7 linked regions of the Homo sapiens genome follow. The protein of the gene in region 7 purifies or fractionates together with the protein of the main gene of each other region. This does not show direct contact. Each region holds a gene or a part of one and is shown on either strand. Other genes may lie near its edges. The genes, in order: GFPT1, MYDGF, HSD17B4, PHGDH, PSAT1, ALDH1A1 and ABCC6.

Evidence for each region.
Region 1: the proteins of ABCC6 (region 7) and GFPT1 purify together in Homo sapiens (affinity purification with mass spectrometry, with the first as the bait; one large-scale study listed by BioGRID). This does not show direct contact.
Region 2: the proteins of ABCC6 (region 7) and MYDGF purify together in Homo sapiens (affinity purification with mass spectrometry, with the first as the bait; one large-scale study listed by BioGRID). This does not show direct contact.
Region 3: the proteins of ABCC6 (region 7) and HSD17B4 purify together in Homo sapiens (affinity purification with mass spectrometry, with the first as the bait; one large-scale study listed by BioGRID). This does not show direct contact.
Region 4: the proteins of ABCC6 (region 7) and PHGDH purify together in Homo sapiens (affinity purification with mass spectrometry, with the first as the bait; one large-scale study listed by BioGRID). This does not show direct contact.
Region 5: the proteins of ABCC6 (region 7) and PSAT1 purify together in Homo sapiens (affinity purification with mass spectrometry, with the first as the bait; one large-scale study listed by BioGRID). This does not show direct contact.
Region 6: the proteins of ABCC6 (region 7) and ALDH1A1 purify together in Homo sapiens (affinity purification with mass spectrometry, with the first as the bait; one large-scale study listed by BioGRID). This does not show direct contact.

Annotation. Positions count from the first base shown.
Region 1 is NC_000002.12:69,380,355-69,384,298, reverse strand, and holds part of GFPT1 (glutamine--fructose-6-phosphate aminotransferase [isomerizing] 1), read left to right. Parts: intron 1-1,215; exon of another isoform or gene 1,216-1,293; coding exon of another isoform or gene 1,294-1,375; intron 1,376-3,944.
Region 2 is NC_000019.10:4,663,628-4,667,571, forward strand, and holds part of MYDGF (myeloid-derived growth factor precursor), read right to left. Parts: intron 1,311-3,944; coding exon 1,249-1,310; intron 1-1,248. UniProt on the Homo sapiens protein: Bone marrow-derived monocyte and paracrine-acting protein that promotes cardiac myocyte survival and adaptive angiogenesis for cardiac protection and/or repair after myocardial infarction (MI).
Region 3 is NC_000005.10:119,539,240-119,543,019, reverse strand, and holds the end of HSD17B4 (peroxisomal multifunctional enzyme type 2), read right to left. Parts: intron 1,116-3,780; coding exon 1,026-1,115; 3' UTR 688-1,025; downstream 1-687. UniProt on the Homo sapiens protein: Bifunctional enzyme acting on the peroxisomal fatty acid beta-oxidation pathway.
Region 4 is NC_000001.11:119,710,366-119,714,790, reverse strand, and holds the start of PHGDH (D-3-phosphoglycerate dehydrogenase), read right to left. Parts: upstream 2,858-4,425; 5' UTR 2,769-2,857; coding exon 2,631-2,768; intron 2,061-2,630; exon of another isoform or gene 1,993-2,060; coding exon of another isoform or gene 1,933-1,992; intron 1,880-1,932; exon of another isoform or gene 1,331-1,879; intron 1-1,330. UniProt on the Homo sapiens protein: Catalyzes the reversible oxidation of 3-phospho-D-glycerate to 3-phosphonooxypyruvate, the first step of the phosphorylated L-serine biosynthesis pathway.
Region 5 is NC_000009.12:78,295,554-78,300,195, forward strand, and holds the start of PSAT1 (phosphoserine aminotransferase), read left to right. Parts: upstream 1-1,571; 5' UTR 1,572-1,657; coding exon 1,658-1,717; intron 1,718-4,642. UniProt on the Homo sapiens protein: Involved in L-serine biosynthesis via the phosphorylated pathway, a three-step pathway converting the glycolytic intermediate 3-phospho-D-glycerate into L-serine.
Region 6 is NC_000009.12:72,925,416-72,929,359, reverse strand, and holds part of ALDH1A1 (aldehyde dehydrogenase 1A1), read left to right. Parts: intron 1-338; coding exon 339-468; intron 469-2,182; coding exon 2,183-2,244; intron 2,245-3,747; coding exon 3,748-3,876; intron 3,877-3,944. UniProt on the Homo sapiens protein: Cytosolic dehydrogenase that catalyzes the irreversible oxidation of a wide range of aldehydes to their corresponding carboxylic acid.
Region 7 is NC_000016.10:16,150,258-16,154,201, reverse strand, and holds part of ABCC6 (ATP-binding cassette sub-family C member 6), read left to right. Parts: intron 1-3,429; coding exon 3,430-3,624; intron 3,625-3,944.

The sequences.
Region 1 (3,944 bases), on a different chromosome or scaffold from region 7:
TGGGATGTTAATAAGTGTTAGGAAAAAAGATCCTCTGGTCCAGTAAATTTGGGAAGCAACATATTAAATCGCGTGGTAATGTTTTGTTTTGTTTTTTGATTGGAGGATTTCTTGGAATCTTTAATGTATTAATAATAAGCATTGAGAATCTCCCAGAGAAGAATAGTGTGTCTATTTTCCAAATTTATTTTATCTTCCTTTTTCTTGGTAGTTTGGAATATACTTTGTCCTTTTTATTTGCATTATTTTTGGTTTTGCTGAGTGTCAAGTCACTTAAGCTATCCCTAGCTTTTAACAGATTTTGCTATTGTTTTTATAAATGTGAAGTTATACCCTTCTGATTCGACGGTGTATATAAAATGGAATTTTGGGGATGGGCGCGGTGGCTCACGCCTGCAATCCCAGCACTTTGGGAGGCTGAGGTGGGTGGATCACCTGAGGTCAGGAGTTTGAGACCAGCCTGACCAACATGGTGAAACCCTGTCTCTACTAAAAATCCAAAAAAATTAGCCGGGCGTAGTGGCGCATGCCTGTAATCCTAGTTACTCGGAAGCCCGAGGCAGGAGAATCTCTTGAACCCAGGAGGTGGAGGTTGCAGTGAGCTGAGATAGTGCCATTCTACTCCAGCCTGGGCGACAAGAGTGAGAGACTGTCTCAAAATAAATAAATAAATAAGTAAATAAATAAATAAATAAATGGAATGTTTGCAAATGAGATCCTTTTTAAAAGCAGTAAAGGAACTTGCAATTTTAAAGTATCCTAAAATGAATTTTTCAAAAGTTTTTTGTAATTATACTGTCTAATGGCTTTGGAGATAATTGAGGGATGCTGAGATTGGCTGCTAGGATTGGTCATAAAACCAGTACTATTAACATATCCTTACATATACTGGATATGAAGAAGTTGTGAGAGAAAATAATTGCTTAATAAGCATTTCTTCAATTGTCCCCTGGAAATGGAGGTTAATAGGTTCTGGTAATGAGCAGTAGAAGGCGGGAAAGGGTTTTGTAACACAAGTTTGGGAAATTCTGCTCTTGGAGATTCACAATTAGCAAGATTAAAGGTTCCAGAAAGTTCTAAATATATACCTAACTTTAACCAGGTAGTTCTTAAACCTTTAATTATGAAACCTTTCTTTACTTCATTCCTTTTTAGCATCCGGTGAAATAGTGTTCTGTTTCTGTGGTTTGAGAATTTTTTGACCGTATATTTCAGGTGCCTAGAAAGTGTTAGAAGATACTTGCAGGTATTTGAAATGATGGCTTTATACTTGGCACTCTGCCCTTTGCAGAGATGACTAAAATAAGAGAGTTGCCTTCAAGAAATTGCTGCCTGATCAGAGGAAAGAAAATGAATGCACATGCAACAGCTTCAGGTGAAAATACACAGTCCTTGTTCATTGCCATGTCATAGACCACAAGTAGAATGAGTAGAAATTTAGAGACTGGAGAGCTCTGGGGTTTGGGTTTCTGTGTTAGGTTCAGGAATGTTCTGGGTGATGGGGCAGGACTTTTACTCAACTTGTAGAGTATTAGTATACTGTGAGAGGTAATCATTAATGGCATATGTTAACCGTCAGTGAATGGAGGCGGAAATAGTTTGAGAACTACTACCAGATGAAGGAGGAAATAGAAGTGCCAGGAAAACAGACCAAGGAACAGTGGTTAAAGGCAGAAGAGTTCCAAAGTAGTATATTGCCTTGAACAGAGTCTATAAAAGTAGAAAAAGGTCATTCATATGTAATACTGCAGAGAAGTTAATTGGATATGGTTATGAAGAAATTATTAGAGAAATTGCATATGTCAAGGCAGAAGGGTCTCAGTTTGTGTTTAGGAGGAGGGCTGCAAGTAATATGAAAAAGAAGAGGATTTTGGGATTGAGGTCCCCTGGGAGTGTTGAGAAGTTGAATTCTAGAGCTGTGGTTCCTGACCTACAAGCCCTGAAGTTGTTACAGGGTGTTCATTGCTTATTCATATGCTTATAACTTTGTCTGTAAGTTGAATAAAGATTGTTCTAGATCATTGAATAATAAAAATTTAACCCATTGTTGTGAAGGAGCCTCAGAATATTTTGATGTTAACAAAAGAGTTCTGTATTTACAAAGTTGGAGAAACACTCATCAAGAGTTAGGAGTAAGGCCCAGTGTGGGGTTCCCTCTGGTAATACCAGCATTTTGGGAGGCTGAGGTGGGCGAATCACTTGAGGTCAGGAGTTTGAGACCAGCCTGGCCAACATAGCGAAGCCCCATCTCTACTAAAAATACAAAAATTAGCCAGCTGTTGTGGTACGCACCTGTAATCCCAGCTACTTGGGAGGCTAAGGGAGGAGAAGTGCTTGGACCTGGGAGGTGAAGGTTGCAGTGAGCTGAGAACACGCCACTGTACCCCAGCCTGGGTGACTGAGTGACACTCTGTCTCAATTAAAAAAAAAAAAAAGAGTTATAAGTAGCCAGTGTTTTGGCTTACACCTGTAATCCCAGCCACTCAGGAAGCTGAGGCAGGAGGATTGCTTGACGCTAGGAGTTCAAGATCAGCCCGGGCAACATAGTGAGATCCCATCTCTATTAAAAAAAAAAAAATTAGCCAGGCATGGTGGTGCATACCTGTAGTCCAGTCTACTTAGAAGACTGAGGTGGGAGGATTGAGTCCAGGAGTTTGAGGCTGCAGTGAGCTATGATTGTGCTGCTGCACTCCAGCCTGGGTACTGGGTGACAGAGCAGGACTGTTAAAAAAAAAAAAAAAAGTTACAAGTAGGGGAGAGGCTAGCTTCAGAGAGTAGTATGTGTAATATGTCTCTCTTGAGATTACAAGGAAGGATGAGAAGTATTTATATATTGTTAAACTGTTGAAAAGAAGATGGGTGAGGGGCAGTGACTCATGCTTGTGAACTCAGCATTTTGGGAGGCTGAGGTGGGAGGATCACTTGAGGCTTGGAGTTTGATACCAGCCCGGACAGCATATTGAGACCTTGTCTCTATATTTTAAAAACAAAAAAAGAAAATGAAGACTTTAATTCTGGCCAGGCGCAGTGGCTCACGCCTATAATCCCAGCACTTTGGGAGGCCGAGGCGGGCAGATCACCTGAGGTCAGGAGTTCGAGACCAGCCTGGCCAGCGTGGTGAAACCCTGTCACTGCTAAAAATACAAAAATTAGCCAGGCGTGGTAACACACGCCTGTAATCCCAGCTGCTGCTCAAGAGGCTGAGGCGGGAGAATCGCTTGAACTCAGGAGGTGGAGGTTGCAGTGAGCTGAGATAGCGCCACTGCCCTCCAGCCTGGGTGACAGAACGAGACTCTGTCTAAAAAAAAAAAAGACTTTAATTCTATAAAGTAAGAATCTACCAAAAATGAAAAAGAAGCTGGGAAGAGAAAATGAGGATTTGAGAGTAGTATGTAGCTTAGACTCTAAAATAATATCTGGGAGAAGTTTGAAAGTTAAGCAAGTGATGAATTAATAGGATTGGTCAGCAGTTCGGAGGGCCCATCCGAAAGTGGACCGAAATGGATAGGATAGATGAGTTCTCCTTGGCTGTCATAGTTCAGTGTAGAGATGCTCAGAGACTAGGAGTCAGAGCACAGTGGACCCAGAGGGTTTGACTTGGCAGTATGATGAAAAATTGTAGTCTGATGTGAATGGTCAGAAGAGAGAGAGATGGAATATTTGAAGATTGTGAGCAGGAAGTACATGCTTTTTTTTCTCAAGAAAGATGATGACATAGGTTGACTGTGAGGGAATGTATAGAGATGTCATGACTTAACTAGTGATTTGAGCTCCAGAATGTTAAATGTGCAAGAGACGTGTCATGGAGCCCCTTCTAGTGGCAATAGTTACAGTAAAGTAGGGGAGACATGAACCAATTAAACACACAAATAATTGAAAGTCTTAATTGTTTCACTCCATATGTTATTTTTGTATGTGTGATTTATTTTATTTTACTTTTACAT
Region 2 (3,944 bases), on a different chromosome or scaffold from region 7:
CAATCTACCCTCCCCACCTCATCCTCATTCTACAGCCTCCAGTATACCCTCCCCACCCACCCTGTCCTCATTCTACACAGTCTCCAATCTGTGCTCTCCCCACCCACCCCATCCTCATTCTACAAAGCCTCCAATCTACCCTCCCCACCCACCCCATCCTCATTCTACACAGCCTCCAATCTGTGCCCTCTCCACCCACCCCATCCTCATTCTGCACAGGCTTCAATCTGCGCCCCACCCCCAACCCCCGACTCCATCCTGGTTGGTGCCTGGAGGGGCTCCCTGCCTCAGCCTGCCTCCTTCAGCCGGGGGGATCTGAGCTCCACATGTTCCTGCAGGGAGCCCTCTGGAATAGGACTCAGCCAGGAAAAGAAATGAGGCTGACACGGGCCTCAGCATGGATGAGCCTTGAGGACGTCACGTTCAGTGAGAGACGCCAGACACCAAAGGCCACACAGGGAAGGTTTGACCCCATTTCTATGCAATGTCCAGGACACGCCCATCCACAGAGACAGGAGGGGGATGCGTGGCTGCCATGTGCTGGGAAGGAGAATGACTCTGATGGGAACAGAGTTTATTTTCAGGGGATGAAAATGTTCTGGAAGCAGAGGTCTGGCTGCACACCTCTGAGAAAGTACTCCATGCAGCTGAATTGTGAGCTTAAAATGCTGTGCTTTATGGAATTTTATCTCAGTTTTTAAACATTGCCAAAAAGGGTCAGGCATGGTGGCACACGCCTGTAATCCCAGCTACTCAGGAGGCTGAGGGAGGAGAATCGCTTGAACCCAGGAGGCGGAGGCTGCAGTGAGCCAAGATTGCTCCACTGCACTACAGCCCGGGCAAAAGATGGAGACTCCATCTCAAAAAAAAAAAAAAAAAAATTGCCAAAAAGCCCTTTGGTGAGTTCGTCTCACCCTTAGGGGAGGGTGGAGCCCCTTGGGGCCTTCCTGGGCCCTGGTCCACGCTCCGCACCCTCTGAGCTGCTTCTCCTTTTCCTGGGACCTTGCCCCGCACAGGCTCCCCCCGTCTCCCCCAGACCTTCTCAGTCTCTGCATCAGTGCACTTCCTTGGGGAGCACTCCCACCCCAGCGACCCTGCCACCCCCCACCTGCACGTGCATGAGTCTCCCTGCTGGTCTGTCTTCCCCTCCAGGGGTGCAGCCCTCGTTCCCTGCCTTCCAAAGCAGCTCCTGAGGCCACAGGGCAGGCCAACGGCAGCCGGAAATGCCATCCCCACCCCGAGTCTCACCTCCAGATGGTGCAGGTGAAGTGCTGGTGGTCTTCGCTGGTCCCCAGACTCATCTGCCATTGCTGGGGAGAGAAGACAGCGCGGGTCAGCCCCGGACACACAGCTGCTCTCGGAGACTTCTAGGTGTGCCTCTGATTCTACAGTCAGGCCACCTCTTCTGTACCTCCCGATTCAGGGGCTGGCCACTAAATCCCCTGCCCCGCCCTCCTGGTGGCCTGGGGTTTGCTGTCATCTGTGATCAGGGAGCCTGCCTGCACCACATCCTTCCCATAAAAGTGGTGCCTCTAATGAGAACTACCCCAAAGTGGCTCCCACGGATGGGGAAATAGGAACAACGCTGTTTGTTTGTTTGTTTGTTTGTTTTTGAGATGGAGTCTCTCTCTGTGGCCTGGGCTGGCGTGCAGTGGCACGATCTCGCCTCACTGCAACCTCTACCTCCTGGGCTCAAGCGATCCTCCCACCTCAGCCTCCCAAGTAGCTGGGACCACACCCAGCTAATTTTTGTGTTTTGTAGAATCACTGTCTTGCCATATTGCCCAGGCTGGTCTCAACCTCCTGGCCTCAAGCAATCCTCCCACCTTGGCCTCCCAAAGTGCTGAGATTACAGATATAAGCCACCATGCCAGGCCTAAGAACAACTCTTAAACATATAAATAGATGTCCAGGCCGGGCGCGGTGGCTCACGCCTGTAATCCCAGCACTTTGGGAGGCCGAGGCAGGCAGATCACGAGGTCAGGAGATCAAGACCATCCTGGCTAACATGATGAAACCCCATCTCTACTAAAAATACAAAAAATTAGCCGAGCGCAGTGGTGGGCGCCTGTAGTCCCAGCTACTCGGGAGGCTAAGGCAGGAGAATGGCGTGTACCCGGGAGGCGGAGCTTGCAGTGAGCTGAGATCGCGCCACTGCACTCCAGCCTGGGCGACAGAGCGAGACTCTGTCTCAAAAAAAAAAAAAAAAAAAAAAAAAAAAAAAGATGTCCCATATCATTTATGAAAAATAAATAAACACAAGCTGAACTATCGTGAGATACCTTTTTCTCCCAGGTCAGAAGGGCAAAAGCCCTCCTGTCTGCTAACACACCATATGGGTGTGAAAACCAAGACTATTCCAGGTTGTCGGTGGAGCTGCAACAGGTACAAGCAAAATGGAAAATGCAGGCTGGGCATGGTGGCTCATGCCTGTAATCCCAGCACTTTGGGAGGCCAACGTGGGATGATCACTTGAACCCAAGAGTTCGAGACCAGCCTGGGCAACATAGCGAGACCCCATCTCTAAAATGACTGGCCTCTTGCACGATGTTACCACCGGGGAACCTGGTTAAACGGTACTTGGATCTCTCTGTAGGATTTCTTACAAGTGAATGTAAATCTACCATGATCTCAAAACATACAGTTTTACTTTTTTTTTTTTTTTTGAGATGGAGTCTCGCTCTGTCACCCAGGCTGGAGTGCAGTGGTGCGATCTCAGCTCACTGCAACCTCTGCCTCGTGGGTTCAAGCGATTCTCCTGCCTCAGCCTCCTGAGTAGCTGGGATTACAGGCGCGTGCCACCACGCCCTGCTAACTTTTGTATTTTCAGTAGAGATGGGGTTTCACCATCTTAGCAAGGCTGGTCTCAAACTCCCAACCTCAGGCGATCCACCTGCCTTGGCCTCTCAAAGTGCTGGGATTACAGGCGTGAGCCACCGCGCCCAGCCCAGTTTTACTTTTAAGAAAATGGACCCATGAATCCCACTTCTGGGTGGTTTTCCCACAGATGTAACTGCACTTGTACAATGAACCCTGGCCAAGGTTATTCACGGACTGGGTTGGAAGTAACCCTCAATCCATTAGTACGGGATTGTCAACTCCACACGTCCATGCAACTGAAGCGCTTTACATAGGATACAGAAAAATCTCTAGGAGGCCGGGCACCGGTGGCTCACACCTGTAATCCCAGCACTTTGGGAGGCCGAGGCAGGCTGATCATTTGAGGTCAGCAGTTCAAGATCAGCCTGGCCAACATGGCGAAACCCATCTCAAGGTGTTGACCGGGCTAGGCTCTTACTGGTAGCTCAAGGTCCTCTTCCAAGCTCTTGTGGTTGTGGCAGATTTCAGTTCCTCTTGGTTGCGGGACTGAAGTCTTCATTTCCTTGCTGCCAGCCAGAGGCTGTTCTCAGCTCCTAGAGGCCGCGTGTATTCCCTGCCCTGCAGTTCCCTCAAGGGCAGCAGTGGCGTATGTGTCCATGTGCTTCAAATCACCCTTTTTTTTTTTTTTTTTTTTTTTTTGAGACAGAGTCTCGCTCTGTCGCCCAGGATGGAGTGCAGTGGCGCGATCTTGGCTCGCTGCAAGCTCCGCCTCCCGGGTTCACGCCATTCTCCTGCCTCAGCCTCCCCAGTAGCTGGGACTACAGGTGCCCACCAAAACACCCGGCTAATTTTTTGTATTTTTAGTAGAGACGGGGTTTCACCGTGTTAGCCAGGATGGTCTCGATCTCCTGACCTTGTGATCCACCCGCCTCGGCCTCCCAAAGTGCTGGGATTACAGGCATGAGCCAGTGCGCCTGGCTCGCCCGGCTAATTTTTGTAGTTTTAGTAGAGACGGGGTTTCACCATGTTGGCCAGGCTGGTCTGGAGCTCCTGACTTCAGGTGATTCGCCAGCCTTGGCCTCCCAAAGTGCTGGGATTATAGGCATGAGCCACTGTGCCTGGCC
Region 3 (3,780 bases), on a different chromosome or scaffold from region 7:
GCAGGGCAGGTCATAACCAATGACTACTTGCCTCAGGACAATTCTGAATGGCCATCCCAGCTTCAGAGCTCCCCAAAAGATCAGTCCAGGCCTTATGGTAACTGCAACCACAGCCTAATGTCTCCATCTGCCCAGCTCTGCTTCCTTTGCTTCTCCTGGCAGGTGCTGCTCATAAAAGCACCTCCCAAATCAACTTCCTGCACATGAATCTCCATCTGAAAGTCAGCTTCCTGGGAAACTCAGCCCATACTAGCCACCCACACATATTCTCCTCAGCTGTGTTACCTGATTGAAATTTACTCCATCTCTGAGCTTAGCATACCACCTGCTGCTGGTCACCTCTGCAGCCAACTCATCCAAAGAGCATCTCCCAGTGCACTTCATCAGAGCTAAATGCTGAGGAAAACAGTGATGTGGCAGTACTTGCTAGTGACTATCTTTCTGTTTTGAGACTGCTGATTCTTCAAGAAAGCTACACTTGGTAGATTTATAAACATTATATGTAGTAAAGAATTTCCAGCAAAGGGGAGGGGAGAAGAAAGAAAACTATTTGGGAGCACAAAGACTTTTCTCTTGCTTTAAAAGAGAATACTATCAGAACAAAGTATGAAAAATGAGTGCATACATGGAAATTCACATAAAAACTGGGGTATCAATAAATAAAAAAACAGAAAATCACAAAAAAACAAAGGTATCAAAGGCCTTTATTGATTTAATTTTCCTTTCAACTTATCAATGCTATCACAAATTCTAAGGAAACAGGACTTGGGCAAAATTTTTTATTATGAAGATACAGATCTAAGAACAGAAGGATAATTATGTGCTAGCTTATATATAGTTCCTTGTAAAAATAATGATACATGAAAAATTAGTAGAAAATGAAAATCTGCAGTTATCTGATATCTGAAAATGTTAAGCAATTTCCCCTGCATCTTAGTTCTAATCACTTTTGCAGAATAATCAAGCATATTTGGGTGAAGAGAGTATTTAATGATTCCATTTTTATTAATAGTGTAGTGTGCCCTTCAGAGCTTGGCGTAGTCTTTAAGAATCATCTGAAGTTTCTGGCTCAGCATGATGTTCCCTCTGGCCTTCAGCCTGCCACTAAAGAATGCCTGCAAGGAGAGGAGGGAAAAAGAGTGCCAACTGTTACCATGTTATAGTTTATTTCTTTTTTTTTTTTTTAAGATTATTCAGACTGAATACAATTGAGCTAATAATTCTGGACAACAAAGGCAACCTTTATTTAGCAATGACAATTTAATAACTACAGATAGCACATTTTTTTAGACATCTAAAAAAAAGAAAAATCATTCCTGTGTATTTTAGAAAACTATACAATAATTTATCTGAACTCATGGATCTGGGAGTTCTGTTTCAACCTACGTTTCTGGCTTTACTTTATGTTCTTACAATTTGAGACCATATTAATAAAAGGCTACACTGTATTCCTAATAAAAATATTCAATTCAGAACTTCTAAAAGCAGATTTAAAATATTTACTACAGTTTCATGAACTAGAAAGCCACGAAATGACAAATTAGAGAATATAACACAATGTTGAATAGATCACAGCTGTAGCATCAGAATGCCTGAGTTAAAATCCAGGCTGTGCCCCTTAATAGCAAGGTGAGCTTGAGAAAATGCTTAGATACGTGGCCTCTGTGAGTTTCAATCTCCTCATCTATAAAAGGCATAACAACAGTCCCTAAATAACACAACTCTGTTGTGCGTGTTAAATAAAGTAATGTGTAGAGTGCTTAGCTTAGTAGTTTGACATGTGATAAGAGAGTATTAATTCATCATTACCAAGCAAAAGCTGGTGTGTTAAAAACGAAGGGTTCCTGTAGCAGTTTTGTATCTAACCTGATACAGAAACTGGTGCAAGTTCCTTAAGTTCTCCTTCAGTGTAAATTCCCTATCAGTAAAATAAAAATAATCAATCATAGTTTTTATAGCTTACATAAAATATGAAGTGAAAAAGCCTCTAGATTTCTAGCTAAATGGAAAAAATAGTGATACCTACATACACTGAGCATTACAAAGCAGCTCCACAAATATAATCTCATTTAAGAATTACAGCTGTCAATTTGAAGTGGGCACATCAGCAGTTCTTACCCCAGTTGACAGATGAGAAACTGAATTTCAGAGAGCTTATTAAATAACCTGCTCAAGTCTACAGAGCCAGCAAGAAGTAGGGCCAGGGCTTAAACTCAGGTGTTCTTTGCTCAGCAATGCTTGTTAACAATACTTGTTAACGAGCAGCACTTAGTCTCAGAAGCAAACCCTCGTGAACTGGAGAAAAGGCAACAACTTTTTATTCCAGAAATAGTCAGAGAGAGCTCATTCAGTCACAATCAAATGCATTCAAACAGGAGACCAGAATTTCAAAACTAAGATTTCTTTCACTATGCAGTTACAAAAAACAAACAAACAAAACGATGGTCTGCAACTCATGCAGGGAAGGAGTCAGTACTTAGGCCAGCCTGCTATGTACTAAACTCTGAAAGAGATTTACAACCTAAAACAAGAACACCTAATTACTAGAAGTAAAAATATCAATTTTGGACATTTTTGAGCAGAAGAATTTTGTACATAAATCTTTCCTCCTATCTATTTTCTTATTTCTTAAAGCCCTTAACCATACGTCCATATTGCCAGTTTCCAAACTCTGCACTGCCATGCACCGGACATCACAGCAAACTCTCTCAGGGACACTTTCCCAATACTGTTAATTTGGGAGGGAAATACAGTCATACTGGTTGAACACAAAAAACTAATTGTTTTGAACTACTTCATAAATGAAACTGTTAGGTATATGGTTTGGCCTAGGAGTGCCATGCAAAAAGTAGTAAGACTATAAACTGCCATAAAGGAAGAAGGTCTGGAAGCACTGTGCTTTCCAGAAAGGCTATACCAACTACTGATTGATTGACACAGGGTCTTGCTCTGTCACCCAGGCTACAGCTGCATGATCACACTCACTGCAGCCTAAGCCTCCTGGGCTCAAGTGATCCTCCCAACTCAGCCTCTCAAGTAGCTGGGACTACAGGTGTGTGCCACCACACCAGGCTAATTTTTTTTTTTTTTTTTTTTTGGTAGAGACAGGGTCTCACTGTCTCACCCAGGCTCAAACTCCTGGACTCAAGCAATCCTCCTGCCTTGGCCTCCCAAAGTGCTGGAACTACAGGCACGAGACATTGTCCCTGGCCTATACCAATTTTATATTCCCTCCAGTTGTGTGTAAATTATCTTATCCCAACCTTAAAAATACTATTTTCTTACACTTTGAAAATATGAGGCAAAAATAACATGCTTTAATTTGTATTTTTGGATACTGGGAAAAATTTTTTTCTTTTGTATGTTAGTCATTTCTATTTATTTCATTAATTATTGTTCCATACCTTTTGTCCACTTCTTCTTTTTTATTATTATTATTATACTTTAAGTTCTAGGGTACATGTGCACAATGCGCAGGTTTGTTACATATGTATACATGTGCCATGTTGGTGTGCTGCACCCGTTAACTCGTCATTTAGCATTAGGTATATCTCCTAATGCTATCCCTCCCCCCCTCCCCCAACCCCATGACAGGTCCCCGTGTGTGATGTTCCCCACCCTCTGTCCAGGTGTTCTCATTGTTCAATTCCCACATGTGAGAACATGCGGTGTTTGGTTTTTTGTCCTTGCAATAGTTTGCTGAGAATGATGGTTTCCAGCTTCATCCATGTCCCTACAAAGGACATGAACTCATCCATTTCTATGGCTGCATAGTATTCT
Region 4 (4,425 bases), on a different chromosome or scaffold from region 7:
ACCAGGGCCTCAGCCCTCCACCCCATCCCCCAGTAGCTGAGACTACAGGCTTGTGCAAGATGCTTAGCTAATGTTCGTATTTTTTGTAGAGACAGGGTTTTGCCATGTTGCCCAGTCTGGTCTCAACCTCCTCAGTTCAAATGATCTGCCTCCTTTGGCCCCTCCCAAAGTGTTGGGATTACAGGCGTGAGCCACCGCGCCCGGCCAAGAAACACATTTTTAAGTTGTAATTTCATACTCACATGCCACACACATACAACTACACAACATAAATGAAACAAAATTCATGAAACAATACTTACAACCTTACTATCTATCTGCATTGCTGTCTGATATTTCCTACTTTGTTTTTTAAAATGCTCGTCATGACCCCTTAAACTGAACTATGACTTGCTCCAAGTCTGAAAAGCACCACTGAAAGGGCAGGGAGGAATGATTGTACTTCCTGACCAGGGGGTGAGTGAGAGGAGACCGCCTGCCCAGAATACAAGGCAGTGGGAACCAAGGCCAGGCCCGGTTCTAGCAACGCTGCCGAAGCTTCCTTCAGCATTAAAGAGACTTCAGTGGGGGAGGGCAGGAGACACTATGCCAGACACCTCTTCATGCAGAATAAAAAGGCATAGTGTAGAAATGAGGACCCTTCAGTGGGCTGACCAAGGAGATTAATTGGCATTCTGAACCAAATGTGTTGCAAAGACAGACAAGAAAGCTGAGCCCTCCCAAACAGTCCAAAAATGCCCAGCAGTCAAGTTAGCCAACAAACACTCCTCCTCTCCTGCCAAGAGTTTTCAGCGCCTTTAAAATGTTCTCCAAGTTTCAGCACCAGACTCCCAGCATCCACCCAGCTGATTCCTGACTTCATGGAACAACCCCTCATTATGGATGAGGCCTCCCATTCCTCTCAATTCTGCCCTCATCCCTCCCTATCCCCACCCCCTCACTGGGGTATCAGGTTTCTAATTTCCTTTAGAGAGGTGAAAGCACTTGATTGCCACCCTCTTCCCAACCTGGTGCTCTGGTGGAGGTGAGAGTCAGAGGCTGTTCTGCAGGACACCCCACTGCCTTTCCTGGTTGTTCCCCAGAGCCACTGATACAATTTCACACAAGAAAGGAGGTGACAGATGTGAGGAGCCTGCCACCCGTCCAATCCTACTCAAGTCCTAAGCCCTTGCCCACCAATTCTGTGCATGATGATTGGACCTTTCTCTGGCTTTTCCAGAAGGGGAACACGCAAAGGTTAGGGAGCTGGATGGTCTAATTCGGGGCTATGCTCTTGTGTCATCTGCTCAACTGTCTCCTGCGTATTAGCCATGCTCCCTAACCAGCTTACAAACTTCTTGAAGGCAGGGACCAAATTCTTCTGAGTACAGGGCAGAGCTGGATACTTGGATATAGTGTCATGCCATGGTGACAAGATCCACGCCAGCAGATACAAAGGCAGACAAAGTGAGCGAGGCAGTTTCCAGGACCACGTGGTTGTGGCACAACTAAAGCAACAACAGCAGCCTCTGCGGTCTAAGGGGTCCTCGGAGGAGGAGACGGCTGAAGGTGGTGGACAGGGCTGAGGCGGGCAGAAGGCGGTTGTGCGATTTGGAGGGTGGGGGAGAATATACTGGATCAGGTGAGGTAGAGACTGGGCAGCTGGGTCGACTACAGAGGTCGAAAGTGCAGGCACTGGAGTGAAGAGTTCACAAAATAAATATTCCGGACAAGGCCACCAGGCCCAGCAGGCCTTTTCAAACACGGTGGATAAAGATTTGAAGTAGATTAATTATATATCACAACAAAAGGAGATAAAAATTTGCTAAGACTATAAATCATCTGGGAGCGTTTGGGATCGGATTCTAGTCGAGTCTGGTCACTCCCAACCAGCGATAAACCAAAGGTGGGGAGGAGGCTAAATCTGGACCCCAGCGCTCCCCGCCCGCCTCCCTTTCCTCCGAAGGCTCCCAGGAGGCAGAGGGGCGGCGAAAGCACGGAGCAGTCTTGCATCAGACGAGGGGCGGGTACGTGTTTGCTGCCTTACGAGGGCTGCCTTCCCCTCCAGCTGCCCCAGCAGCCACCAGACTGGTTGGGTCTCCGCCAGCTTCCCCCCGCCCCCCGACCCCCCCAACCCCGCCACCGCCAAGGCAGGCTAGAATCGGCGGGGCGGCCCAGAACTTGGTTGGGAAGAATCGCCAGTCCCTGGGTTCCCCGCAAAGAAGCCACTTTGGGGCCCCTCTCCCGATCGCCCCGCGCGGAGGCGGTTGGGGGTTGGGGGAGAGGCGGCGCGAGGCTGCCAGAACAATTGCGCGCTAAGGCGCTGGGGCGCCGCGCTGGCATCCCGCGCTGGCATCCGCGAGCAGCCTGCAGGACCAGTTGGAGCAGCCCGCACTTTGCAATGCTAGCGGAGGCATGCCAACGTGAAAGACGCGGTTGCAAACTAAAAGAAAAGTTTGCATCTCGCCGCCGTTTGTTCTTCCCTCTTTCTGCCTCCTCCCGCCCCCGTTCTTCTCTACCCCCCAATCTCAGGAGGCCCCGGAACTAATTGATACGGGGTGCATGCGAGGGGGGCGCGCTGGCCTGGGCGCAGCCAGCCTTTTTCCATGGAGGTTGCCCTAGAGACCTCAATTTTCTCTCTCTCGCCTTACCTGCAGCTCCGCTATCAGCTCCTCTTTGCTAAGGTTCTGCTTTTCCACCACCTGCAGCCCTCCATCTTGCAAGATCTTCCGGCAGCAAGGGTCCAGGCTGTCACTGATGAGCACTTTCCGCAGATTTGCAAAAGCCATTGCTGGAGTTGGCCTCGGAATCGGCCGCTGTGAGTAGAAGTACCTAAGCCAAGAAGCTGCGGTTCGGCCTGGCGCGCTAGAGTAACTGGGCAGTATTCTCCAGCTCCCGCTCCCCAGTCATCTCCTCCTCCTCCTCCTCTTACAGTCTCCTTTTGATTGGACGGAAATACTCAAACTCTCCGCGACTCCGCCTCCTCCTCGCGGCTCTGAGGTTGCCAAATCCCTGCCCGCTTTATTATCCTCCCGCGATGAATTTCTCCATCTCAGCCAAAGCTCTTACCTACACCTGGTGAGCATATAAAAAGCACAATTTACGCTGACTAGCTGATGCATATCTGAAATGAACGGAGAAATACACCTCATCCTGAGAGAAAAACTTCATTTTCACTTTTCCTCCTAAGGATTCATTTATTAATTCCTTACGAAATTTTTTTTGAGTGGGTAAATGTGCAAGGCACTGTGCTAGACGTTGAAGGGAATTCGACTATCAAAAAGAAAATGTCCAACAATGATAGACTGGATTAAGAAAATATGGCACATATACACCATGGAATACTATGCAGCCATAAAAAATGATGAGTTCATGTCCTTTGTAGGGACATGGATGAAATTGGAAATCATCATTCTCAGTAAACTATCGCAAGAACAAAAAACCAAACACCGCATATTCTCACTCATAGGTGGGAATTGAACAATGAGAACACATGGACACAGGAAGGGGAACATCACACTCTGGGGACTGTTGTGGGGTGGGGGGAGGGGGGGAGGGATAGCATTAGGAGATATACCTAATGCTAAATGACGAGTTAATGGGTGCAGCACACCAGCATGGCACATGTATACATATGTAACTAACCTGCGCATTGTGCACATGTACCCTAAAACTTAAAGTATAAAAAAAAAAAAGATACATCCTCTTTCCTCTGGTGGCCTAACATCCTAGAGTACCAAACACACAGACTTGGAAAGTTACGTAGTGAAAAGCAATAGGAAGCTTTCTGAGACACCAAGGAGCTGTGATTAATTTCAAATTAGTGATGCAATGAGAATTATGAGTTTATAAAAGAGCGGGGACCTGGTGCATTTAAACTAGGCATACTTTGTTAAAGTTATTTATTTCCTTTCCCTCCACTTCCTCTCTAATTATGAAAAAGAAGAAAAGGAAAACGGGATGTCAGTGTGGTTTAATTGACCAAGGAGGCACTTCTCAGCTCTTAACTCTTTTATATTTAAACCCCATAACCGACGTGCTCTCTCATGCCCCATTTTACAGAAATGTCAGAAAATTCAATTTGGGATTAAAGTCACCTAGAATCAGAAGCAGAATCAGAGATGCTCATAGTTGAATTAGAATTCAGCTTTATGGACATATCCAGTCCAACTAACCATTGTGTGTTATGTCATCCTGAGCTATTCATAACTCAAGTGCTAGATCCTTATCCTACAGAACTATGCAATATCAATTCTATAAAGTAATGAAAATTCTATACAGATAATTCCTGGGCACAAATCAGATTTTTAGACACAATGTCCTCAGTGGGTAAAAAAAAAAATTGTCTATCATGTTTGCTTGTTCGGATGAATTGTTATTCCTACATTCCAAGACTCATGAGTATTCAAATTCTCTGTCTCTCTTGAAGTGCCCAGCAGTACCCTG
Region 5 (4,642 bases), on a different chromosome or scaffold from region 7:
AATGGATGTGCTGTCCCTTCTCCCAACCCACTACATGGGACTGTGTATAGCCCTGGTGTTAGGAACTAACTCCAGGAAGGATGAAGGCTGACTCCCTTAGTCTCCAGTAGATAAGCTGCTAGGGGCAGCTACTAATATATAATAACTGAGTTATTTACGTAAAATAATGGATATGTGATGCTTCTTGCATGCCTGAGTTTCTGGGCTGAGATTTATTCTGTCTTGAATGTCGCGGTTTTCTTAATGAAGTTGCTGAGGAACGCAGGGGCCTTGTTCATTTTGCCTTTTTCTGGAAACTTTGTCCTCCAATTCCCAGATCCAGAGCAGTGCCTCTGCTCTCAGCCCCATACCGCCCACATTCTCATTAGGAAAAGCAAACAAAAGCCAAAGTCCTGTCCAGTTACAAGCCTTCTCTAAACGGGGCAGTTGGACTGTATATATTCCTGGCGCATCAATTTTACTCAGACAGGGAAAATATTTTTACATTAAAAGAAACTAGGTTAAATTATGGTAGAGAATGCAAAATTCACAGTTTAAAAATGATGAAATTCCAGACTTCAAAGGAACTTCTTTCTTGCAGGGTAGGGGGAGGGTATTCTGTTTCAGAACCCCATGCGGGTCTCCACTGGAGTTCTTTTGAGAAGGACACTTCTGTGGAAAAGTTTGAGCAGCTCTGGCCCTGCGCCTGGCCTGGCTAGGGGCCACCTTCTTCTGGTTTGGGCTGCAGCGCCCTATGGGTATCGCGTTCTTGTTAATATCTCCTCACGTTTCTAAACTCACAGCTTGTCAGCGCGGGCGCAACCTGAGAGCTGTCGCAGGTTTCCAGCTCACTCGTTTCCCAAAGGAGGAAATGGAGAATCAGCGACTTTAAAGGACTTGCCTGGCGGGCATCCACGCTTCCCAGGCTATCGCTCCTCCCTGCGTCCTTGGCCACCTCCGTTCTTTAATCCTGCAGGAACTCAGGACCCACGTGCAAATACAAAGAACCGTATCCACCCACCCCCGGCCCTTCTTCATCCTGCGCTTCCAACCTTGGGGGGGTCCTCTCTCTCCACTGGGGTATCTGACGCCCGTGGGGGGTGCTTAGAAAAGTTTGGTAGATTAGTGACTGGTGGTTCTGGAACAAATACATCACAGCCCAAACTGGGGGCTGGTGGTGGAGAGGTGGGTGGATGGGGGCTACAAATCTGCTCGGCAACTGCCCTTTCAGCCAAGAGAGAGGAGCTGAGGTCCTCTGGGGTTGGAGGACTGGAACCGGCCAGATTGCGGGCTCAAGGGGCGAAGGCAGGTTGGCAGGGGCAGCCTCTTCCCGCCGCCCACAATCCTCGGGCGGGCGCGCAGCCGAGCCGGCTCGGCTGGCTGGCGCAATCTCGCGCGCTCCTTGCATTGATCAAAAATGGGGGTTGAAACAGTAAACGCGAGGAGGAGCAACTGCTTCGACTCGGCTCAGAAGCGCGACCAATGGGGATGTGAGCTCCTTCGCGCGAACCAATTAGCGCAGGGCCTGCGACAGCACGGGCCAATGGGGCGCCGACTCGGCGCAGGAACAAGGCGGGGGTTCGGGGCCGGCTGCAGACTCTCACCGCAGCGGCCAGGAACGCCAGCCGTTCACGCGTTCGGTCCTCCTTGGCTGACTCACCGCCCTGGCCGCCGCACCATGGACGCCCCCAGGCAGGTGGTCAACTTTGGGCCTGGTCCCGCCAAGCTGCCGCACTCAGTAAGTCCCCGCGAGCGGGCGCCGGGAGTGAGGTTCAGGCGGGAGCACGCACGCGGGTGGGTTTGCATCCCTGCGTGTGGCAGTCGGATTCCCGCTCCCTGCCTTGAGTCCCCTAGGCGCTTTGCATCAGCGTGCACAGCGGGATCAGCAGCTCCGGCAAGCGGGCTTCGGGAAGAATGCAGTTGGTGAGGAAGCTCGGCGAGGCGTGCCCGTGCAGCTGCCCCTGGCCCTGACTGCTGGTGCGAGGCAGTGCACGACTCAGCTGGCCGGGGCCTGCTGTCCCGCCGGTGCCACGCACCTGCAGACGCCCGGGCTGTGCCATCTCCTGGGCCGGTCCGGGGGCTGGGGCGGGGCGAAAAAGAAAAAGCTCTGATCTCTGCCTTCGCCTCGCGCAGCTGTGCGGCGAGCCCGGGCAGTGTGGAGCGGATGCATGAATGGACATAGTGTGAATGAGTGATGAACGGGAATGAACCGATGACAGGTTTTGCATATGCAGTGGATCACGTTAGCTGAAAGGGATTGCAAACTTAAAGGTCCGCGTGTGCGTGCCCCCCTACGCCTTACACCAGTGTTTGCTTTAGCCAGCACTTAGGAACACTGCTTTTCAGAAATGTAAATTTGAAAACCTTCAGTCCAGCTTTCCCCTCCTTGTCCCCCATAGAACCTACCCTTTCCTAAAGCCTTTCTCCCCACCCCCCTCCTTTTTTTAACCTGCTTGTCCCCTAAAGGCGTTCGAGTATTCTAACTCTGGTAGACTTTGGGCTGCTTAACCCAATTCCCTGTTCATTTCGTTCTGGAGTAAACCGAGTGATTGAATTCTCTCCCGGGCCACAATCAGATCTTGCTGGTGGAACTCACTCTCTGCCTTCCCAGGCCCCAGCCCGGCTCCTCCCCTCCCCCGCCAAACCCACCGTCCCCAGCCCCACCCGCAGTGAAGAAGGCAAAGTCTCCGATGTGCCTTGAGCCCATTGTCAGGCGGCTGCCGCCGCCGTTAGATTTTTATTTTTCTAACCAGGATAGAGCTGATAATATGTTGGAGCAGCATGAGGCATAGCCAAGTATTTTACAATTATCAATTGTTGAGCAGAGTAGAAATCTCCCTGGGACAGAGCCTCCTCTGTGTTGTGGTAAGAACAGAGAATCCAATTTTAAAGGGGAAAGGACTTCTTACTTTTCTAGGGGCAGCGCTCACAGTAGCTGAGAGGACAGGGCTTATTTTTTCTCAGTGGTTACAGTTCATTTTAGGCGAGATTCCCTGCTCCAGCTGTGGAGATGTTTCCTGTAGCCTCCTCCTGCACCCCCCATGTTTTGGAGTGTTCCCAACGTTTGTTCCCTATGTATTTCGTTATTAATTTATTACTATAATTGTAATGGCAATTGTCATCAGTAATACAATTATTTGTTATTAATTTTTCTGGGAGGATTTTTGCCCTTGGACTGCATGTAACCTGGGGGGCAGGAGGGTGAGGGGGCAGGCAGATGTTGCTTTTTATGTATTTCCTTGATTTAGTTGAATTGTAAATATTAGAGAAGCTTTCAAACTTCTTTTGACTGTAACCTACAGTGAAAAACATGTTTACAAAATGACAAAGTATACACATTCAATTGTAACAAAAATAAATGCCTTATGAAATGATGTGTAGCCTAATTACCTGTGACATACACTATTTTGTATTCTATCCTGCTCTAGTCTGTTCTGTTTCATTAAAAAAATTAGTCGTGAGCTGGGTGTGGTGGCGCACGCCTGTAATCCAAGCAACTCAGGAGGCTAAGGTGGGAGGATCTCTTGAGCCCAGGAGTTTGAGGCTGTAGTGAACTGTGATTGTCCCACTGCATTCCAGGCTGGGTGATAGAGCAAGACCCTGTCTCTTAACAAAAAAAAAAAAAAAAAAAAAAAAAAAATTGGTTATGATCCACAAAAGCAATGCATTCTTCAACTGGAAAAAAAAAAACCTACTGGATTAGGGAGGTGTGATTTTTCAGTAGGAGTCTTTAAAACTGTTTGTAATTATTTTGGTTATAAACTTTTATAGAACTATTTTCAATGAATGCTGTCTATAAGAAAGATACAGTCTCAGGAGCAAGTTCAAAGATTATTCACAGATGAATGTTTCTCTTTACTAAAAGAAAAGATTCACTCTATTTTATTTGATCAGCTGGTGCTAACAAGCATCCAACATTTCAGAAAACAATAACACATTCTTAGACCCAGTCGTCAAGGCAGTCTTTTTTTTAATCTAATTCTTTTTTTTTTTTTTTTTTGAGAGAAGTCAAGCTCTGTCACGAGGCTGGAGTGCAGTCGCTTGGTCTCGGCTCACTGAAACCTCCGCCTCCCGGGTTCCAGCGATTCTTCTGCCTCCGCCTCCTGAGTAACTGGGATTACAGGCACCCACCACCAAGCCCAGCTAATTTTTGTATTTTTAGTAGAGACGGGGTTTCACCATGTTGGCCAAGATGGTCTCAATCTCTTGACCTCATGATCTGCCCGCCTTGGCCTCCCAAAGTGCTGGGATTACAGGCGTGAGCCACCACGCCCGGCCTTGTCTAATTCTTTATTGTTAAAATACTGTTTTTTGAGACAAGTTGCAATCCAGTTTAGGTTATAGCTGTGTTTTAATGATGCCCTCCTTAGCAAGCATCTTAAAAAAAAAGGTGCCTCCTATCTGTAGACCTTCTCTGGCTGGTTGCTTTTGCACTTATTTTGTGTTCATTTTTAAAGCTTTTCTTTTTCTCTTTATTTTTTATTAAGGGAATCCTCACATACACAAAGATAAAAGTAGTGTAATGAACCTCCAAGGACCCATCTCTGAGACTCAACAATTATCAACATTGTGCCAGTCTTGTTGCAGCACCCTGGGACGAATCTTATTCACAGCAGGCTCTTCCTTCTTCCTGCCCACCCCACGCTTCCCAGTCTAGCACCTT
Region 6 (3,944 bases), on a different chromosome or scaffold from region 7:
TTCTGATAGGACTTAGAAGACTAGGTTTCATTCTCAGATGTTATGTGTATATCAAATTGTGACCGATTCCTAGAAAGCTGGTTAGCAGGAGAACATCAAAATGAGATAGAAAGAGCACTGGGGTTTAGAAATCAGAATCTCACTACCCTTTGTGCCCAGATCTTGCTATTTGACCTAAAGGAAGTCATTTTAACTCTTAAAAAGTGGAGGTTAGACAAGATGACAAGATTTCTTCTATTTCAAAAATTCCCTAGCACATGATTGCTGAAAATATTTACTACATATTTTTAATCTAAAACTTATGGAATTTTAGATTTGGTGTTTGACATGTTTTTCAGACAATGGAGTCAATGAATGGTGGAAAACTCTATTCCAATGCATATCTGAATGATTTAGCAGGCTGCATCAAAACATTGCGCTACTGTGCAGGTTGGGCTGACAAGATCCAGGGCCGTACAATACCAATTGGTAAGTATCTTTGAGAAACCACTAATGGTGAGGATAGGAGCGAGGAGTTTACTATAGAGCTGAATAATTTCAAACTCTCCCTTTTAAAGATGTCAACCAAATAAGGCAAAATTATTTTCCTCTTGACTTTGAGACAACACAGTTTTCAACTTAGAAGTTCTATTAAAATTCATAAAAGGTCTTTTAAAGTTGTTTCAGCATAATCATGAAGATAACATTATAGATATTTTAGAAAATGTCAAAGTAAGAACATTCCTTTGGCAGTAATTACTGATCTGAGGCAATTGCCTCTCTAAGGTCCCAAACTTTTTAAAGCTGACCTCTGAAATTATTTATTTGGGTTTTATTCCAATACTGACATTTATATCCTTTCTGTAATGTAATTATTTAAGCCTCTTTACATGTTCCAGTATAAGTCAGTTATGGTCATCTGTGCCTGGTCAAACTCAGTGTAGTTAGACCAGACTAATCAAACAAGCCAGTTCACACGGACTCGTTTCAAATATCTTCAAAGCAAGATGGGACTGTGTTTGCAGCCTAAGTTAAGGGTTTGTGTGTGTGAATCTGTACGTATGTGTTATTTTAGTGGGGTATGCACATAATGGAGTAGAAATACTAAAGATATTTCATGTGAAACATGAAAACACACACATTTAGGAAACAGTATGGGTGGAATTTAATTCAGGCAAACCTATGAACTTTAGGAATACAATACCCTCCAGGACTGGCCCTGATGTGCACTTCCAATCCAATTGGAGCATGCAGGAGGTCAGAAGTGATAGCAGAAAGTTGAGAGGAGAGTAAGACCTCGGTGGTACTAAGAAATGTGGCTACTTTAGAACTGTCCTACTTTACTCCGGGACAAAATGGGAGAAGTCACTTAAAACACAAATAGATCTTGATGAAGAGAGTCCTTGCTGAAACCAGGAAGCTTCTGTGGGAACTAGAACAGAATTGAATGTAAAGCATAATGTATCTCTCTGGATGACCACATTAAACTTCGGGGCACATAAATTGGTCAAATTTAGATTGAAAATAAATGTCTTATACTCCTGTCATTTTCTTCATGTATTTAGAGAATTTGCTATTATTGTTTGGTAGGCAAATAAAATACATTTTAGAACAAGTCAGTAGGAAAGGCTTATTACTCATAGGGAGATTTTCTTTTTAATTCTACTGTTTTTAATTTTACTATTTCTAAAAATTATATTATAACTTTTAAAAAGAATTCTCTTATTGGTAGAACTTTGAGCTACCAGAAACAAATTGGAATGTGGTTCTTCTCTTCGCCAGAGACCTCCTACTTCCTTTCTCGTCCCTTTTTTATAACACTTAGAGAATAAAGATAATTTTCAAATCAGGCCTCCTAGAAGATGAAAGGTGGAATTAATTATCTTTCAGATTTTTGCCAATTTTGCCTCTTTGATTTCACCTAACTCAATTTTATGGTTCCTATCATTTCGAATTACTATTTTAGGGCTTCACTTACCATTTTGGGAATAGTTGGAGATATAGATGGTCTCGATCTCTTGACCTCGTGATCTGCCTGCCTCGGCCTCCCAAAGTGCTGGGATTACAGGCGTGAGCCACCACACCTGGCCAGATATATGTTTTTAAAATTATTGTCTACACCTTTCTCTCACATCACCAACCACCATTTTGTGAATGTCAAATACATTTGTTTATATATGATTGTGTGTGTTTTATTTTTCAGATGGAAATTTTTTTACATATACAAGACATGAACCTATTGGTGTATGTGGCCAAATCATTCCTGTAAGCTTTTCTCCTATATAATTCTCAATTTTAAAAAGAAGAGTTCTTATTCTATCTAATGATGAAGCTTTCTCTAAAACAGATGGATGCTTATGTATTTGTTAAATGTGGAGTAAATGTAAGATTTGTTGAACTTGGTCTCCCTGTGACTAAACTTCTTGCATATGAATTAGGTAGTCCGAAAACCTATCTATATTCTGGCATATCTCTTGAGAATGTTTTAATACTACATCATCCATAAATGTTAACCCTTTACTCTATGGGTTGTTTTATTAAAAGTTGTATTATGTACTCTTTATAAGAGCCAAGCTTTACATGTATATGGCAAGGTGCTCTCCACTGCACATCTGCAGGATAGCATTTTGGTGGAATGTAGTGGGGCCTACTATTCTCCAACGCACTTTCTCATTGAGACATCTCATCATGCAGAACAGTAGCTCCCAGAGTGTTCAACTCATGACACACATTTTTTAATCAAAATGGAAAAAAGAATACCAGAGGCATTTGAAGCACTGCATGGAATATATTTTACCTTTAGATAAGAGGCTCAGATCCTCCATATTACTCTTAGAGGAAAGTAGCCTTTTTAAGAGGATTGTGAAGATTTTTTAAGCCCAACAAACAGGACACTATCTAAATGATTTTATTTTAACTGACATGCTTTAAAAGGCCAAACAAAAAAATGGTAGCGAAGTCCTTATGTGAAGAAATGGTCAAGACTTATCTTTGGCTCCAATGAGATTGAAATATATTCATATCAATATTTTAGTGAAATTGCTTATTAATTCAAAAGTCCCAATAAATCGATAAAAACTATATAATTATGAACACTGATAATAGCTGATATGTACTACTTGTCTATGCTAGACCAGTCATTGTGTTGAGCCCCTGGCCCTCTTTCTTGGTTAATGCTCAAGACAGCCTTCTGAGGCAGAGAGGACTATTATCAGCACTCACAGATTATGAAATCAGATACAGAGAGCACGTAACCTGTGTGAGTTCACATGGCTGGTCAGTGATTGAGCTGAGATTTGAACCCAAGTACTTGGCCTCTGGACCCTGGACATCTTTGTCTTTAGCAAGGTATTTTTCCTGGAAATAAAAGCTACTAAATAATATTATTGGGTAAATAATTACAATAAATGACTTATGGAGAAGGAGAGTAATCATCCTTTTTAAACATTTTTAGATAACTTACAGTGTGCTCCATAATAAGCCAAACCATGCAGTGATTTTTTTTTTCCTGGTAGAAAAAGAACTCAACAGTACTTGATTAAATTTTGAGGTTCTCTCCTATTTCCTTCTCATATCTCATATCTGGTTTATTCAGAGCGTTTTAGCATTTACTAGTTGCTTTTAGCAATGAAGTATAATATGCCAGATGATTTCACAAAACTACGCAATTATTACATAACATCTACAGGGGGTGTATAATATGGAAGTTGGATTAGCAAATATGCCTTTTGCAATACAAAGAATCTATTGTTACATATTGCTTTCTAGTGGAATTTCCCGTTGGTTATGCTCATTTGGAAGATAGGGCCTGCACTGAGCTGTGGAAACACAGTGGTTGTCAAACCAGCAGAGCAAACTCCTCTCACTGCTCTCCACGTGGCATCTTTAATAAAAGAGGTAAGTCTCCCGAAATCAAAATATGCTCAAGAACTCAAGAATCCTAAATTACAATAGGAAGACCTCAT
Region 7 (3,944 bases):
GCTGAGAGAGGAGGATTGCTTGAGCCCAGGAGTTCGAGACTAGTCTGGGCAACATAGCAAGACCCTATCTCTGTGGACAACAGTATTAGCCAGGTATGGTGGCATGCACCTGTAGTCCTAGTTACTTGGGAGGCTGAGGTGGGAAGAACGCTTGAGCCAGGGAGGCGAAGGTTGCAGTGAGCCGATATTGCACCACTGCACTCCATCCTGGGCTTCGTCTCAACAACAAAAAGCTGTGTGGAAAGATACACATAAAATTTACTATCTCAACCTTTTTTTTTTTTTTTCTTTTTCTTTGGAGACAGGGTCTGGCTCTGTCATTCAGGCTAGAGTGCAGTGGTGAGGTCAAGGCTCGCTGCAACCTCCACCTCCCAGGCTCAAGCATTCCTCCCACCTCAGCCTCCCGAGTAGCTGGGGTTACAGGTGTGAGCCACCAGGGCCAGGTAATCTTTTTATTTTTTGTAGAGACAGGGTTTCACCATGTTGCCCAGGCTACAGTCGAACTTGCGTAGGCCTCCCAAAGTGCTGGGATTACAGGTGTGAGCAGCCACGCCGGGCCCATCTCACCCATTTTTCAGTGTATAGTTTCTGTAGTGTTAGGTACATTCACACTGTTACACAACAGAACTACAACTCTGTACCCATGAAACCCTAACTCTCCTTGTCCCCTCCCCCAGCGCCCAGCCACCAGCATTCTCCTGTCTCTCTGAGTGTGACTACTCTAGACACTGCATAGACGCAGAATCATAGGATCTGTCCTTTTGTGACTGGCTTATTTCACACAGCATGATGTCTTCAAGGGTCATCCACATCGTAGCATGTGTCAGATTCTCTACCTTTTTAAGGCCGAATAATTTTCCACTACATGGATAGACCACATTTTGCTTATCCGTTTATCTGCCAGTAGATACCCAGGCTGTTTCCACCTCTTGGCCGTTTTGAATAATGCCACTATGAACATAGGTGTATAGGTATATGCCTTTAGAAAAACCAAAGTGGCTGGGCGCGGTGGCTCATGCCTGTAATCCTAGCACTATGGGAGGCCGAGGCGGGTGGATCACCTGAGGTCAGGAGTTCAAGACCAGCCTGACCAATATGGTGAAGCCCCGTCTCTACTAAAAATACAAAAATTAGCTGGGTGTGGCGGCAGGCGCCTGTAATCCCAGTTACGTGGGAGGCTAAGACACTGAGACAGGAGAATCGCTTGAACCCGGGAGGCAGAGGTTTCAGTGAGCCAAGATTGTGCCACTGCACTCCAGCCTGGGTGACAGAGTAAGACTCCGTCTCAAAAAAAACAAAAAAAAACCTAAGGTGTTCTGGATTTATAAACCCCTCTGACCCTGAGGGTGTCCGAAGGGCTTGTGGTAGGCAATAATTTCCAGCACTAGAGAGGCAGCGTTGCTTGGTGGGTAAGAGTATACACAGGTGACAGACTGCCTGGGCTCAAATCCAGGCCCCCCACCCCACACCCCCACCCCCGCCCCGCCCTGCCACTTACTAGCTGTAGGATCTTAGGCAACTTATCTTGTGTGCCTCAGTTTCCTCATCTGTAAGGTGGGAATAATAGCACCTACCTACCTTGCAAGGATTGAATTATATGCACAAAGTTGTTGAAACAGTGGCAGGCATAGAGCAAAGAGTAAATACTCATTTTAGTCCTGAGTCACACTCCTGATAACATCATTTCACAGAGTTGGAATTGGAGGCCTGGGGCTTGCCTGACGTCACACAGCTTAAAAGTAGTGAGGTTGGGACAAGACCCAGGCACTCTAACGCCTGCATGACCATAGTAGGTTCTGATCATGTAAAAGGATGCTGTTTCATGGAAGGGCTTACTGTGCAAGACAGCCATGCTGGGGCCCCAGGGGTCAGTTCCCACCTGGGTCAGGGGCTCACTGGGCTCACAACCTGGAATCTCAACTCCTCCACCCTCCACGAAGGGTGCTACTCCATGCCAAGGGCTTATTCTGTGACAAGCCTACACACTTTTTTTTTTTTTTTTTTTTTTTGAGACAGAGTCTTGCTCTGTCGCCCAGGCTGGAGTGCAGTGGCGCGATCTTGGCTCACTTGCAAGCTCTGCCTCCCGGGTTCACACCATTCTTCTGCCTCAGCCTCCTGAGTACCTGGGACTACAAGCGCCCGCCACCACGCCCGGCTAATTTTTTGTATTTTTAGTACATACAGGGTTTCACCGTGTTAGCCAGGATGGTCTCGATCTCCTGATCTCGTGATCCGCCCACCTCAGCCTCCCAAAGTGCTGGGATTACAGGTGTGAGCCGCCGTGCCCCGCCACCCACACACTTTTATGTGCCATGTCGTCACGATTCAGCGAGGACGGATCCATTAGGAGCACAGACTCTGGGGTCAGAGGACTTGGGTTCAAATTATGGACCCACCACTAGCCTTGAGACCTTGGTCAAGCCACTGAGCTTCTCTGTATCTGTGTCCTCTTCTCTCAAAAGAAGAGAACAATAATATCTACCTTGGTGGACATTATGAGGATTGAGTGAATATATACAAGCACTTAGAATGTGTTTGGCACAAGGTGGAAACTAGAAATAGAACTGGACATAGCCATAAACAGGCCAGGCACGGTGGATCACGCCTGGAATCCCACCCAGGTGTTGTACACATCTGTATTTAAGGCCCACGTGACACCAGCCTTGAATGTCTTAGGAAGACTGTAGATTTGATTCTTGAAGCAGCAGTCAGTCATTGTAGGTTTGTTTGCAACGGCATGACTGAAGTGAAAGCTGTGCTTTCGCTGTTGGGGGAAATATAAATTAGTACAGTCACTATGGAAAATAGTATGATGATTTCTCAAAAAACAAACTAGAAATAGAACTACCGGGGCGCAGTGGCTCACGCCTGTAATCCCAGCACTTTGGGAGGCTGAGGTAGGTGGATCACCTGAGAGTTTCAAACAAGTCGGACCAACATGGTGAAACCCCATCTCTACTTTAAAAATACAAAAGCCAGGCATGGTGGCGCATGACTGTAATTCCAGCTACTTGGGAGGCTGAGGCAGGAAAACTGCTTGAACCGGGAGGCAGAAGTTGCAGCGAGCTGAGATTGTGCCATTGCACGCCAGCCTGGGTGGCAGAGCAAGACTCCGTCTCAAAAAAAAAAAGAAAAACGAAGAAGAAAAAAAGAGCCATAAACAGAAAAAAGAAAATAGCCATTTCACAGGTGGGGAAACTGAGGCACAAAGGGTTTGAATGACCTGCCTACAGTCAGCCTGCTCAAAGATGGCAGGAACAGGCTTCCTATCAGTTCTGCAGACCACAGACCCCAGACCCCATGTGTGGGGATGCCTGAACACAGGCACCTCACTCCTGCACTGCTTCAGGGACCTGTTTCTGGGCACACCCACACATCACCATGTGCCGACAAACGCACGTCCCAGCTAATTGTCCCAATCGTTCCCAGCGTGGGCCAGAAACAGCTCCTGTGTCTGGCACGTGCCCTTCTCCGGAAGACCCAGATCCTCATCCTGGACGAGGCTACTGCTGCCGTGGACCCTGGCACGGAGCTGCAGATGCAGGCCATGCTCGGGAGCTGGTTTGCACAGTGCACTGTGCTGCTCATTGCCCACCGCCTGCGCTCCGTGATGGACTGTGCCCGGTAAGGCTCCCGCCCCGGCCTGACCTCACAGCAGCCCTGCAGTGGTGGGGGAAGGAGGCGGAGGCAGTCCTGGGCCACTGGGCTTCGGGTTAGAGCTGGAGGGGTCCTGAATGGGGCCAGAGCGGGAGGAATGCCCGGGAACACATGCCAAGTGGGAAAGCTGCCCAAGGACATGCGCCCAGCACACGCTTCCAACCCAGCTGTGAGGGCCAGGGAGCCGCATGGAAAGCAGGACTTCTATGGAGAAAACCTCAGCGCAGACACACTGGGCTCTCACAGCTGCCGAGAGCCTGGGCTGGTGTCCAAAGAGCCTCTCTGTC